2 separate regions of the Homo sapiens genome follow, and region 2 is linked to region 1. The links come from fine-mapping of genetic effects on gene expression. Tissue or cell type: whole blood. Region 1 holds a variant in brackets; the other region holds the start of a gene. All regions are shown on one strand. Distances are from middle to middle.

Region 1 (8,784 bases):
CATTGTGATGACGGTTGCACAACAATCTATAACTTAGTGGCTAAGATAGTCAGTTGTATATTATGTATACTTTAATCATAATTTAAACAAATTAAAAATAAATAGGTAAGTAGAAAGAATTACCCCACTTCCCAGAGAAGTAGGGGAGAAGTGGGGAAGGAAGTCTTCCTGGATGGCAGGACCGTCCCTGAGTGTCCCAACAGGGATGGTTTTGGAAATGTGTAAAGAACACTTTTTGGCTAAGAGCAGTGGTTCATGCCTGTAATCCCAGCACTTTGGGGGACTGAGGTGGGTGGATCACCTGAGGTCAGGAGTTCGAGACCAACATGGCAAAACCCTGTCTCTACTAAAAATACAACAAATAATGGGGCGTGATGGCGGACGCCTGTAATCCCAGCTACTCTGGAGGCTGAGGCATGAGAATCGCTTGAACCCAGGAGGCGGAGGTTTCAGTGAGCAGAGATAGTGCCACTGCACTCCAGTCTGGGCGACAAGAGCGAAACTCCATCTCAAAAAAACAGAACCCTATCTACCCAGAGCACAGAGTGAAGATGGGAAAGGGAGATACAGAAATAGAAGTGGAGGAGGGAACGGGAGTGAGCCCAAGCGCCCAGGTCTATCCCCACCTGCTATGGCTAAGGTTTAGAGAATAGGTTGGACTTATTCACCATTCGTTTGTTCAACGAGGTACAGTACTTCAGCACCAGCATACACATAGCGCCTTTGCGTGAATCAGAGAACAAACACTACCTCTTTCCCAGGCAGATACAGTCTCCTGGGTGCAGGGCTTAGCTAGCAAACAATATCTCTGTGGGAGGGGGGAGTTCAACCCCTACCTGGCCACTTGGCTGACAGCCTCTATATTATAAGCAACTTACACAGATGCATCATCAGCCCTGTGTACCAGGCACTGTGCTAGATTCTGCAGAGTTTTCTTAGCTATAGAAGACCAGTCCGTGCTCTGAACTATCTAATGTTGCAAGTGTTGAAGGAGCCAGGGGAAGAGAGAGGAGGTCTTCGACAGCATGACCCTGAACCTCATGCACTTTGCTTCTGTGGGGTTCTAAGGCCAGGAAGCAGGGATGCAAAAGATGGCAGGAGGGACTGGACTTGGGCCTTCATTGCAAACCCAATGGCAGGTCAAGGCCACGGGGGTGTGGGGAGGGGCTGAAGGGGCTGACTTGGTGTCCAGGCTTGGGAGGAGCCCGGTTTGGCTGGGGAGGAAGGCACCTGGACACTACACACCTGTGTGAGGTGTGCAGGAAGTCTGCCTGCTGCCTGGAGAAGTCAACTTGCTGCTGGTCGCCTTAGGGAGGTGAAGCCTCTCCGTACTAAGCCTGGTATACAGGGAGAGCCGGTCAACTTCGACTCCTCTGAATTATCCCTGGGGCAGAATGCCTGTAACCAATTTTAACCAGAGGCCGGCAGGCCTGGCTGCATCTGATTTGTGCTGCCTTCCCCACTGTCAGCACAAGCAAGATAATGATCTTTGGGCTATCTATGACACGGGGTAACAGACTTTTGAGTCGGAGAAAGCAGTGTTCAAATTCCAGCTCCACAATTTATAAGCTAAGTGATCCTGGATAAGTCTCAAGTTTCCCTACCTGTAAAATGGATTCAATTATACCATCCCCCTAGGAGTTGATAAAGATGGAATGTGTTGATGTTTATAAAACACCCAGCACAATGCCTGTACAAACTAACCAATGTTCAGGGGATGTCATTTCACACACACACACACACACACACACACACACACACACACACACACACACACATTCTCTCTCTCTCTCACATGCACAAATACATGCGTGTGCACAACCACTTGGTTTGGGATGTCCACATCAGTGAGGTCTGACACCTGGCCCATATCATTGGGGCTGGTACAGGTGACGGGAAAGACTCTTATCTGCAGCAGAGAAATTCCTACTGTCCACTTGCTCGGAGGTCCCTCATCTCTCCTCTCTTCCTCTCCCAACCAGCAGGCTTAGAGACAGACCTCCTCTGCTGCCCACGGCACAGCCTCACAGAGCATGCCACACGCCGGACACGGCACCTCTCAGGCACTTATGCTGAAGTATGAGGTGGTATGCTGACTGGCACTGCAATGCAGTGAGGTACACCGTGGGGAGCTGAGCGGCCCTGGGATGAATTGGGGTACACTGTGGGGAGCTGAGCGACCCTGGGATGAAGTGGGGTACGGTGTAGGGAGCTGAGGTACTTCATGATGAAGTGGGGGTACAGTGTGGGGAGCTGAGCTACCCCATGATGAAGTGGGGGTATGGTGTGGGGAGCTGAGCTACCCCATGATGAAGTGGGGTATGGTGTGGGAAGCTGAGGTACCCTGGGATGAAGGAGGTACACTGTGGGGAGCTGAGGTACCCCATGATGAAGTGGGGGTATGGTGTGGGGAGCTGAGCTACCCCATGATGAAGTGGGGTATGGTGTGGGCAGCTGAGGTACCCTGGGATGAAGGGGGTACACAGTGGGGAGCTGAGGTACTCCGTGATGAAGTGGGGAATGGTGTGGGGAGCGGAGGTGCCCATGATGAATGGAGTATGGTGTGGGGAGCTGAGGTACCCCATAATGAAGTGGGGTATGGTGTGGGGAGCTGAGGTACCCTGGGATGAAGGGGGTACACTGTGGGGAGCTGAGCTACCCCATGATGAAGTGGGGTACAGTGTGGGGAGCTGAGATGCCCCATGATGAAATGGGGAACAGTGTGGGGAGCTGAGGTGCCCATGATGAATGGAGTATGGTGTGGGGAGCTGAGGTGCTCCATGATGAAGTGGGGTATGGTGTGGGGAGCTGAGGTACCCCATGATGAAGTGGGGCATGGTGTGGGGAGCTGAGGTGCCCCATGATGAAGTGGGGTACAGTGTGGGGAGCTGAGGCACCCATGATGGCGTATGGTGTGGGGAGCTGAGGTGCCCCATGATGAAGTGGGGTACAGTGTGGGGAGCTGAGGTACCCATGATGGAGTATGGTGTGGGGAGCTGAGGTGCCCCATGATGAAGTTGGGTACAGTGTGGGGAGATGAGGTACCCCATGATGAAGTGGGGCATGGTTGGGGAGCTGAGGAGGCCCATGATGAAGTAGGGTAAGGTGTGGGGAGCTGAGGTACCCATGATGGAGTATGGTGTGGGGAGCTGAGGTGCCCCATGATGAAGTGGGGTACAGTGTGGAGAGCTGAGGTACCCATGATGGCATATGGTGTGGGGAGCTGAGGCGCTCCATGATGAAGTGGGGTATGGTGTGGGGAGCTGAGGTGCCCCATGATGAAATGGTGTACGGTGTGGGGAGCTGAGGTACCCATGATGGTGTATGGTGTGGGGAGCTGAGGTGCCCCATGATGAAGTGGGGTATGGTGTGGGGAGCTGAGGTACCCATGATGGAGTATGGTGTGGGGAACTGAGGTGCCCCATGATGAAATGGGGTATGGTGTGGGAAGCTGAGCTACCCATGATGGAGTATGGTGTGGGGAGCTGAGGTGCTCCATGATGAAGTGGGGTACAGTGTGGGGAGCTGAGGTACCCATGATGGAGTATGGTATGGGGAGCTGAGGTGCCCCATGATGAAGTTGGGTACAGTGTGGGGAGATGAGGTACCCCATGATGAAGTGGGGCATGGTTGGGGAGCTGAGGAGGCCCATGATGAAGTAGGGTACGGTGTGGGAAGCTGAGCTACCCATGATGGAGTATGGTGTGGGGAGCTGAGGTGCTCCATGATGAAGTGGGGTACAGTGTGGGGAGCTGAGGTACCCCATGATGAAGTGGGGCACACCGTGGCAGGTGAGTACCCCAGGATGTAGTGGAGTACAGTGGTAAATGGAGGCTCACTGGTGAGGGCAGATGCTCTGTTGAGAAGCAGTGCTACCTTCTGCTTCATAACCCTGCCTTCTCTTCCTGCCTCTACTACTCCACTTTCAAATTAGACATCGCTGCTCAGGATTCCTTCCCTAGAAATCGACCTAAAATACCTCTCCTACAGACATGACCCTGAGGACAACCAGTGGCTTCTCACCTGGGGTCCTGGCTCCCAGCACTGTGTGCTGCTGGGTGAGAGTTCCCTTTGTGCAGAGCCCACTTACCACGTGTTGGATGGATGCGTCCATTAAGGATGGGATGGATGGAGTACAGGAGTCCATTTCGCACACATTTCCTGAGGTCTTCGAGGTGTCATGCACCTGCTGGCCTCTGGGGATCAGACGGGAATATAAACTGGTCCCTGTTCTCAAGGAGCTCACACAGGCCCCCGGCTTCACCTGGGCTAAGAGGTATGACCCACACACTTATTCAGTGTAGGGGACAGGCCACCAGCTCTGCCTTGGTAAGCCGGGGAAGGCTCGACAGAGTTGGTAATCTCCGAAGTGGGCTTTGGAGGAGGCATATGAGTGGAGGACCACGGAACAGGCATTTTAGGCTGGCTGTCAGTGGCTTCAGGAGGTTCTGACTTGGTGGGAGATACGTCCTATAGAGGTTCTCCAAAGACCCACAGTGCCATGCTGATTTTCTGAAATCCAGTGGGACTTAGGTAGGGTGACAAGGGCAGTGATGGAGCTACAGTTGTGTCCATTTAGAGGGAAGTAAGAGTGAGGATGGTCAGAGAACCTGGCTACACCCAGCTCTTGCAGTCATAATCGATTCCTTTCCAGTCAAAGAGGGTGGGAGAGTGGTTTTTCTCCCTCAGACAGAAGGATGAGGCTAGGAGGGAGGAGCTGGGTGGGCCGGGCGTGGACCAGCTTGGCCCTGGTGGACCTGCAGTTGGGCGGGAGGATGCTGGTTATTTGACTACAATGTATATTTAAAGGTCTCAGTTACAATGGGCCCCGGGCGCTCTGTAACAAGCTGCAGCTGTCCCATTGCTCATTAGCTTTCCTAACATCTTCTCGGGGCTGGTCCTGGGAGAGCAGCCCCCAAGCTCCTCCCTGTGGGCCGGGGCCCTGAAAAGCTGACTT[C/T]TTGCCCCCAGCCTCAGAGCTGCCATGATGAATGGCGCTGCTGCCCCGTGCAGACAAACGTCTTCCAGGAACAAGCCCCGTTTGTTTAAATCAAATGATCACCATCTTCTCTGGCAAAAGCCGCTCCCTGGACTCAAGGCCCAGGCCTGCCTCAACTGCCACCCACCTGTCCCTCTTCCTCTGGACATTAGGAAAGGACACATCAAGGGGTCAGGAGCAGCTCTAGCCACTGTCCTCAGAATGGGGACAGAGCAGGATCTCCAGGGCCAGCAGGGCCTGGTCGTCTTTGGAAGTGGGGTGAGAAAGGACTAAGCTTTCACAAGACATGGAGAAGCAGCCAGCAGCATGGGAAACAGGGCCTCAGCTGTGCTGCATCTGTGCTCTGAGCTTTGCACTTTCTACATGTGTCTCTACTCAAGTTACGCCTCTCCTGGCTTCAGACCCCTCAAGCATAGAAGAGTTTGTTAGGTCCACAGCTCTCAACCCCGGCTGCACACTGGGGTCACCAGAGGAACTTTTAGGAACTACTGATTCAGTTGGGTTCCAGGCACTGCCATTTCTTCCCCTCAGGCCCTCAAGCAATTCTAGCATGCAGCAATCGGTTTGAGTAGCCCCAAGGTCTCTGACCTCATGGCTTATCAGGTCTTCTTTGAAAAGTCCTGGCTGCTTAGGAAACACCTCCAGGAAGCCATCAGTTTGCAGACTGTGGGTCCCAAGAAGTTCCTGTACCAGGAGTTCTTCCTAAAGAAACCCACCTGGACTGGAGCAGGAAGGGACCCCAGAGCCCACCTTTTCCAACTTGGTTTTAGAGATGGCAAAACTGGGGAGTGCTCCTCCTCTCCTTGGGAGGACCCCCAGCTCAGACGGGAAGTGCTTTGTGAACGTAAAGCACCAACGCTGGGAAATTACTACAGATGGAGTTGTTGAGGATGGAGATTGGGGCACTGGAATTGTAACTCCTATCTGTCTCCCCAACTAGATTGTAAGCACCTTAATTGCAGAGACCAGGTCTCCTTTGTCGTGTGTGTGTGTGTGTGTGTGTGTGTGTGTGTGTGTGTGTCCTCCTGACTTAGCAATAAATGACTATGTGGATGGATGGATGGATGGATGGGTGGGTGGGTGGATGGATGGGTGGGTGGATGGATGGATGGATGGATGGGTGGATGGATGGATGGGTGGATGGATGGATGGGTGGATGGATGGATGGGTGGATGGATGGATGGGTGGATGGGGCCTTCCACAGGTGAATTTCCCTTCCTTACTTATCACTAGATTTTGCCATGGGTCACCTAGGCTGTCATCACCACGGTCACTGCTGTGAATAATGGAGTGTCAGGAGCTGAGGGAGGCAGTAGGGTATTGAGAGAACCTGTTAGCCTTGGGACTCAGGGGAGGGCCATTAATAAGGAGTAAGCATCTGAAGCTGGTCCTGACAGGCTTGCTGTGAATGGTGAGGCCAGATTACATGCCCATTGTACCCTGCTGTGAATCCACATCTCCCTAAGCCCCATCACACAGTGTAGCCGGGAATTTCTCACCCTCAAAGGTCTTTCAACCAAAAAAAAAAAAGGCCATTTCTGCCCAAGGAAGAATGTGGACCTGCAGGTTCCAGGTGGGAAGGAGAGGGGCTCAGGGTCTGGGTGAGGACAGAAGTTGGTGCTCTGACCTTAGTATGAATAACTCCAGCAAAGTCTTAATTCCTCAAAATACTGCCCAACATGCAACCGGCCACCTTTTATTGAACTTCCACGTGGGCAGACACTATGCTTGCTGAGGATACAGAGGTAAAAGAGAAAGACCCTGCCCTCAGAGGACTTATGGTCAAGGAGTAGAAGCTGTCGGGGAAAGGGCAGAGGGCTGGTGAGCCACGGAGGAGAAAGTGCTGGACAGGGCATGGACCCCAGGGGTGGCTTCATAGAGAGGCAAGATTTAAGCTCGGTGGGAGTTCTTCAGTGTGGCTCCCGGGAATCTGAATTTCTATCTCTCTCTTTTTTTTTTTTTTTTTTAGATAGAGTTTTGCTCTGTCGCCCAGGCTGGAGTGCAGTGGTGCAATCTCAGCTCACTGCAACTTCCGCCTCCTGGGTTCAAGCAATTCTTCTGCCTCAGTCTCCTGAGTAGCTGGGATTACAGGCGCGCGACAGCATGCCCAGCTAATTTTTGTATTTTCAGTAGAGGCGGGGTTTCTTTTATTTATTTATTTATTTTTTGAGACAGAGTCTCACTCTGTCACCCAGGCTGGAGTGCAGTGGTACAATCTCAGCTCACTGCAACCTCTGACCCCTGGGTTCAAGCGATTCTCCTGTCTCAGCCTCCCAAGTAGCTGGGATTACAGGCATGCACCATCATGCCCAGCTAATTTTTGTATTTTCAGTAGAGACGGGGTTTCCCCATGTTGGCCAGGCTGGTCTTGAACTCCTGACCTCAGGTAATCCACTCACCTCAGCCTCCCAAAATACTGGGATTACAGGCGTGAGCCACCGTGCCTGGCCAAATCTGAATTTCTTCTCAAATGCATGGGGGAATCTGTTGTGCCGACATGGTTAGGAATGATTTGTCTAGTGAGTGGTGGAGAAGGCATCCTAGGCAGAAGAAACTGTATGTGCAAAGAAAGGGAGGTGATCTAAGGGCACAGAGGTAACGGCAAACAGTCAAATATATGTGTAGAAACCAGGTTATTTGGGGGAAAGGGGATGCAACTAGAGTGGGAGGAAGAAAATCAAAATGCCATTTTGTTTGAATCGTTGAAAATAATTCCCCCAGGAAGCAGTAATCCATTTCAGCCTTCCTCATTCAGTGCTGATTTGCCCAAGTGGCAGGGAGATCTGGTGCCGATTACCAGGTTTCGGTGCATTAGGTAATGCAACAATAAAATCTGGGTCACTGCAGCACAAAGTCCCCTTTATTTTGACAAGTGTAGTTTTTACTCTGAAGTGTTATCATAAATAATTAAATTAAACCAGTAAATGGGTTGTAGTATGCTTTGCTGCAGTAACAAAGTCTCTGTAACCCCAGACACTGAGCCACTCCTTTGGGGGATTCTTGGCTCGGAAACATTTGGGAATTTTTCAGAAGTCAAGAATATTTGGAGTAGTCAAAGGAGAGAGGTAGGGCTGAAGGCTTGTTCCAGCCCATCCTGCTGCCCCGTTTCCCACTGGGCTTCCCCATCCTGCTGCACGCCATTCTATCATTTGACCTGTGGCAGCTTGAATCTGTAAAGGGATCACTCCTCAGCCCTAGGCTGGCCTCGAATGAAGAAGGGTAGAGAGTCCCAGTGCACATATTGGGCAGCCTCTTTTTTTTTTTTTTTTTTTGAGACAGAGTTTCGCTCTTGTTGCCCGGGCTGAAGTGCAGTGGTGCAATCTCAGCTCACTGCAACCTCCACCTCCCGGGTTCAAGCGATTCTCCTGCCTCAGCCTCCTGAGTAGCTGGGATTACAGGCATGTGCCACCATGCCCAGCTAATTTTGCATTTTTAGTAGACACGGGTTTTCTCCATGTTGGTCAGGCTGGTATTGGGCAGCCTCTTTTTTTTTTTTTCCATAATGCCCGCTCAGGCATCAGGGCATCAATAAGTAAATACTTCAAATCTTAGGGTAGAAGGTCTTGCAGGGACTCTCAAGACCACCAGACAACCCACCACCATCCATGACTTTTACCATTTCATAGACATGAAAACCAGGGAAGTAAAGTGACATGACCCATTGCTTGTTGGCCGATGGACAGGATAAGTAACATGCAGAACGTGAGTGCCAAAGACGCGGAGACCCAAAGGAGAATGTGCTGGAGACACAGGGGCTGCATGCAGGCAGAGAAAGGGGAAGTTGCAGG
Region 2 (6,537 bases), 40 kb after region 1:
GGAAGTTTCACCATCCGCCCACCCTGCCCCCGACCCTCACCCACTCTCTGGTTTGGGAATCACTTCTCTAAATTCCCTATTATTCTAAGTACCCTTTCTACAGGATTTACCCTCACGCAGAAGGTGGTGGGCATTGAAGAAGCCAGAGCTCCTTACAGATGACTCTCCACGGATAACATGAAGGGGAGGGATACCTCACAAGTCTCCTGTAAATGGGAGGTGGCAGGTGGAAAGCAGCAGGCAGAAACATGGAAGGGGGAACTGGGCTTCCTGGTGCCAGAGGAGAAATCTTGAAGTGGAACTTCTTGGTAGTAGTAGATTTAGGTACCCTTCATCCACACTACATAATATTCCAGAGGTGTTACATTATTTGATCTCTGAGGGCTTTGGTAGAGGAGGGAACCCTGTAGAGGTTGAAAAGGAGACAGAAAGGGCCAAAAAGTTGACAGTCAACATCTTTGTGCACTGTTAACAATCTGGTCTGGAAAGACAGCACTGGCAAAGGTAGAGTATTTCCCAGATCTGCCATGTATCAAGTCTGCTCACATTACTGAGGAGTAGCTGTGATCTGAAATCATTATTTTTATTTCTTATTTTTTTCTGAGACGGGGTCTTGCTCTGTCTCCCAAGCTGGAGTGCAGTGGTATGATCTCGGCTCACTGCAACCTCCGTCTCCTAGATTCAAGAGATTCTTGTGCCTTGGCCTCCCAAGTAGCTGGGATTACAGGTGTGTGCCACCACGCCTGGTTAATTTTTGTAATTTTAGTAGAAACAGGGTTTCACCATGTTGGCCAGGCTGGTCTTGAACTCCTGACTCCGGTGATCAGTCCGCCTCGGCCTCCCAAAGTGCTGGGATTACAGCAAACCTCACTCAATCATCCCAGCTGGGTTAAGTATCCCTTTGTAGACTTCAACTCATTGCACTGCTAATTTCTTGTTTATTTACTTACTCTTCAATTCTGAAAAAAAGTAGGACCTTTATCTTGTTTAGTATTCTATCCCCAAGTGCCCACACAGTGCATCACAGAAAACAAGATGCTCCACAAATGTTTAATTTATTAAGTGTGCCAGGGTATACTGCTAACTCATTGCATTTTAATTTTTCTCTAGATACTCAAATAGCTAAGCAAATGAAGGTACATGCCAGTCTTTCTTCTTTTATACACAACAGACAAAAGTGTTGGGGGGCTAGACACCAACCAGCTATTTTTTTCCCCTGGAACCAGATCATCATACTGCTGAGTTCCTTCAAACCATCAAAGTACAGCCTTCCTTCCAATGTTGCATAATCTGTTCAAAATCACAGTATAAATACAAAGTTCTTCCATCCATTTTACAAAACCAGCAAAACTCTACAATAAAATCCTACAGGAAAAAGTAGACCAATCTCATTTACAAACAGCATTTTAACAGTAATTATTAAATGTTACAAAACATAAGATACAAAATCTAAATCCTTAAAGTCACACGATTTCTACAGAAATAAGACCCTCGCCCCACCCATATTACTTATGACTCAGGACAGTAGTTCGTCCTCACGGGGACCCACTGGCCAACTTTTCACCAACCCTCACCAGAGGTGGATGCCGGCCCTAGCACTGGCCCTGGCCCTCATACTGGCTTCAGCTCTGGCCTTGGCTCTGGCCCTGTCGGCCTCGTCTGCTAGGGCCTCACGGTACTGCACTGGCCAGTGCTGCGGTTCCTTCTTATGCAGTTTGGCCACGAACCCCAGGACTTCCATCTTGCTGATTTCCAGGTTGCTTCGGGGACCCCAAGAGAATTCATATTCTGGTGGATTGGTGTGAGGCACCCGCCTGTAACTGAGATATCGCTGCTGCACAAAATCTTCCATAATAAGCCTCTTCGGATACCCAAAGAGGAAATGATACTTTGAGGGTTGCACCCCCAACCGACGCAGCATCTCCCAGACCTGGGCCTCCCTGGCGCTATTACCTCTCATATAGATAAGGCCCAGGATCATCATTAACAGACCCAATCTGGGGCCATCTCCTCCCAGATCCTCCTCCTCCTCCTCCTCCAGAGGTTTTAGTTTGTTGATCAGGATGTAAGTGTGGTGCTTGCGGTCAAACTGTTTCAGCTCAAAACCAAAGACATACCGCAGATGCTCTGCGGCCCTTGCGATGATGTCCGGGAACAGAATCTTCAAGTCTCCAATAACGTATTTCACCATCTCCGAGCGTGTGATGGGACTCTTCTTCTTGTCTTTCACCAGGAGGAACTGCACCAACTCCGCCACCGTCCGATTCAGCCGGCGGTAGGCCCTGCGCCTTGCCAAGGCTTTGGCCGCCAAGGCCCTCGCGCCTTTCCGGGTGAGGGCGGGCTCCGCAGCCCCCTCCTCCCTCCCGGCGCCAAGCTCCTCCTTGGGGCGCTCCTGCGAGGCGGTCGGGGCCCGGGTCTCACCATCATGGCCGCCATCCTTCTCCCCCTCGGCCTGCGGGACCGGGAGCCCCCTGCTCTCTGGTGTCTGCAACATGTTTTCGGGCAGGCAGGTGCAGAGCGCGTACACGGGCCGAGGGGTGTGGGAGCCGCCGCGCAAGCCCCGGGGGAGGGGTTGGACAGCGGCAGTGACGGCGGGAGTACAAGGAGCAATGGCAGCGGGAGCTTTGTGGCTGCTGGGCCGCACCGCACGGGAGTCAAACCTGCGGCCGCAACGCCGCCAGCAGCCGGAACCTGCGGCGCGCAGCCTCAGTCCGCGCCCGCGCGAGGGGCCACTTCCGGCCACCTCAGCCAGGACGGCGACCCTAGTGCCGCGCGCAGCCCCTCCTTTTCCGGTCCCTTCTGGGTTGGGGGTGTGCCCAGGCTGCTATAAGTGGAAATGCCCTGGAGGGTGGGGACGGGGGTGCGCCCTGTGACGGATTTTAGGCTTGAAAAGTCGGGGGCGGGGGAATGTAACCAGGACTCTCCCATCCAAGGCATGCAGACTGGGGAATGTTTCGGTGTACAAGAGATGAAATAGGGATGGAGTGCCCCCCACGTTCTTTCTGCAAGTGCCTATTTGTGAGTGTGTGTATCTGGGATTTTCAGTGCTTTACCGGGGCTCTTGTGCAGAGTGCACGGTGAAGGCTGCGAGGTAAGACTGTGCGAACCAATTAGTAAAGGATGCTAGGGAGACTGAAATTTATTCTGGACGTAAAGAGAAAATACTGCAGCGGGATTTAAGCAAGTGAGTGTCCAGACCAGATCTGTGTCTTCGGTTCTGGCGGTATTGTGGAAGATAGATTGGAGTTCGGCCGGCTAAAAGCTAGAATCCAGTTTGGAGGATTATTATAGTGCAAACTAGGAACTGGGACCCGGCCTATTTACTGGGTTGTATCCTCGGTGCCTAGAGCAGTGCCTGACACGGAGAGGAACTCAATAAATATTCAATGGATCATTATGATGAGGGAGTAAGGACAGCAGATTCCATGGGGATAAGAGGAAAATACTGAGAAGTACAGCAGGAATAGGGACTGGTTGGAAGAAAGGGGAAGTTTGTTCTTTTTTTTTTTTTTTTTTGCGCAAGTCAAATTTGACTACTCCCATGTATTTCTTTTCTTTTTCTCTTTTTACACACTCTGAGCTTTCTTCTGCTTCTTGCTCCTTCCTTCCTTCTTTCCTTCCCTCCTTCCTTCCTTCCTCCCTCCCTTCCCTCCTTCCCTTCCTGCCTTCCTTCCTTCCTTCTTTCCTTCCTTCCTTCCTTCCTTCTTTCCTTCCTTCCTTCCTTCCTTCTTCCCTCCCTCCCTCCCTTCCTTCCCTGTCAGAAATGCCCTCTCTATCACCTCCATTTCTCCAAATCCTGTCCACTATTCAGGGCCCAGTTTAAACATCACCTTCCCAAGCCTTCCTTAGTCACCACGCATAGAAGTTATTTACTGTCATCTCTGAATCACCTTAGCAATTGTTAACATCCACATATATAGGCTTTATTAGGTGCCAGGCTCCGTTCTAATCACTTTTCAAATATTAATTCATCAGATTCTCACTAATGTAGGTACTAATACCATCATCCCCATTTTATAGATGATTGTATCTTTTCTGTGACACAGTTTGCTACTTACTAGCTATGTAATCTTGGGCAAGTTACCTAAACTTCTGCCCTTCTGTTACCTTATCAGTAAAATGAGTATAATAGTAGTAACAGCATTGTGGAGATTATGTGAAGTAATGCACATAAGCATTTAACACAGTGCTTGGCACATATTGATATTCAATACATGTTAGCTGTTAATTAATGCATATTTTTATATGCAATATACAATATTAGAATTGCAAGATGAACTGTCCTGGAATGCCTAGCACTCTGTGGAGATGCGGAGGAGGTGTCCTGGGACATAGCACTGAACCGGGTCAGTACTCACCCATTCTGTGACCTTGTACAGGATGCTCAAACACCCTGGGCCACTTTTTTCTGATACTGTAGCCCTGCTAGGTAAGTGGTATTAGCCCCATTTTCCAGGTGAGGTTACACACAAGGAGGTTAAGTAACTTGCCCAACATCACACAGCTGGGATGTGAACCCATATAGTATGACTCCAGAGACTGTGCTCTTAACCACTACATTCATAGATGTTAATTATTATTATTATCATTTACTATATTTTGTATTATAATTTGTTGTGCTTATCTTATTACCCTCCCCAAACCAAACATCCTAAAAGCTAGGGCTATGTTTTTAACTCTTTTGAAGAGCTTCTCTTAGTCAATACTCGATATATAATTGCCAATGAATAAATGACAGAAGGCTTTACTTTTTTCCCTAGGAAATAACAGTTACTTATTTTAAGTAAATATCTGATAGACTTTTCTAAATCTAAATATGAAATCTTCCTTTTAAAAACTTTTGAAAATTTATACCCACTTGTATCATATGACTTACAAACCTGGAAGTATGTGAATGAAGCAGGAGAGGATGTTTATTATAGCCTAGCTTGAGGCTATTATTAGTTTTCATTGTGCCAAACATTCTATGTACAATATAATTTTGTCCTCACAAATCCCTATTAAGAAGGTATTATTATCCACATTTACAAATGGGAAAACAGTCACAGAGAGGTTAAATCACCTGCCCTGAACCACCCATCTGTTAAGTGCTAGACAAGAAATGAAAACCCAGATCTGTAAACTCTGAAGCAAGACTGCCTGGTTATCTGTTTTTCCTGAAGGTAGAGAGAGCCACCCATACCTAAAAGGACAGTGCTAGAGATAAAATAGTCCACTTACATATTTTCCTCACTACAAGGATTGCCAGGGAGATATGCAGGAGATACATGCACGGAAAGGAGCATGCAGAAGATATATTAAATGAAAAGAATTTTGAGGGACAAATCTGTGGTAATAGGGCTGGATTTTAAGAACTGAATAAATGACGATACTACTCATAAGAAGGAACAAACTACTGACACAATGTGAATGAGTCTGGCAGATATGTTGAGTGACAGATGAAAGATACAAAAGATTATACGTATAATATGATTCCATTTATCTGATGTTCGAGGCAGGATAAGCTAATCTATGGTGATAGAAATTAGGACAGTGGAGGCCTGGGGTGGTGTTGACTGGAAAGGGGTATCCAGGAACTTTCAGTGGTGATGGCAACGTTCTGTGTCTTGATTTGGATGTAGGTATACATTTGTCAAAACTTGTGAAACTGTACGCTTAATAGCTATGCATTTCTTTTCTTTTCTTTTCTTTTCTTTGCGACAGGGTCTCACTCTGTTACCCAGGCTGGAGTGGTGCAATGGCACAATCTCAGCTCACTGCAACCCCTGCCACTGCAACCCTTGCCTCCAGGTTCAAGTGCTTCTCTTGCCTCAGCCTTCCAAGTAGCTGGGATTACAGGCACCTGCCACCACACCTGGCTGATTTTTGTATTTTTAACAGAGACGGGGTTTCACCATGTTGGCCAAGCTGGTCTCAAACTCCTGACCTCAAGTGATCTGCCTGCCTCAGCCTCCCAAAATGCTGGGATTACAGGTGTAAGCCACCATGCCCAGCCAGGTATGCATTTCATAGTGTATGAATCATACCTCAAAATTTATAAAAATAAAAAAGGATTTTAAAAAATGAACAGCCCTTTAGGTATGGGAGGAGGCGAGGAGTAAGAAAGGTGAATGGACTCTGCATTACCACTTGCCGATCGCTAGATGTTACCATGTTACAGTGGAAGGAATGCAAACAATAATTTTTCCCATTTTTTTTTTTGTTATGTCCACCATGTAACCGGACACACAGAATTTTTTTTTTTTTTTTTTTTTTTTTTTGAGACGAAGTCTCACTCTGTCGCCCAGGCTGGAGTGCAGTGGCGCATCTCGGCTCACTGCAAGCTCCGTCTCCCACGTTCACGCCATTCTCCTGCCTCAGCCTCCCGAGTAGCTGGGACTACAGGCGTCTGCCACCATGCAGCTAATTTTTTGTATTTTTTTTTTTAGTAGAGATGGGGTTTCACCGTGTTAGCCAGGATGGTCACGATCTCCTGACCTCGTGATCCGCCTGCCTCGGCCTCCCAAAGTGCTGGGATTACCGGCATGAGCCACCATT

The links. PIP is the estimated chance that this variant, and not a neighbour inherited with it, causes the effect.
Region 2: MAGEF1 starts here. The variant in region 1 is fine-mapped to the expression of MAGEF1 in whole blood (INTERVAL, PIP 0.95).

The regions. Positions count from the first base shown.
Region 1 is chr3:184,668,344-184,677,127 of GRCh38, forward strand. No RefSeq gene overlaps it. Among named protein-coding and RNA genes, the nearest start is that of MAGEF1, 39 kb to the right of the region's middle. RefSeq lists an enhancer at 4,444-4,945. The variant C/T (reference allele first, on the strand shown) is at 4,958.
Region 2 is chr3:184,709,328-184,715,864 of GRCh38, forward strand. It overlaps MAGEF1 (MAGE family member F1), which reads right to left and starts at 2,737. Exons shown (of 1, transcript NM_022149.5): 1 at 1,037-2,737. The coding sequence starts at 2,494. The coding sequence ends at 1,571. LOC107986163 (a long non-coding RNA gene) reads left to right here and starts at 2,916. Exons shown (of 5, transcript NR_160768.1): 1 at 2,916-3,091; 2 at 5,704-6,537. RefSeq lists an enhancer at 1,937-1,996.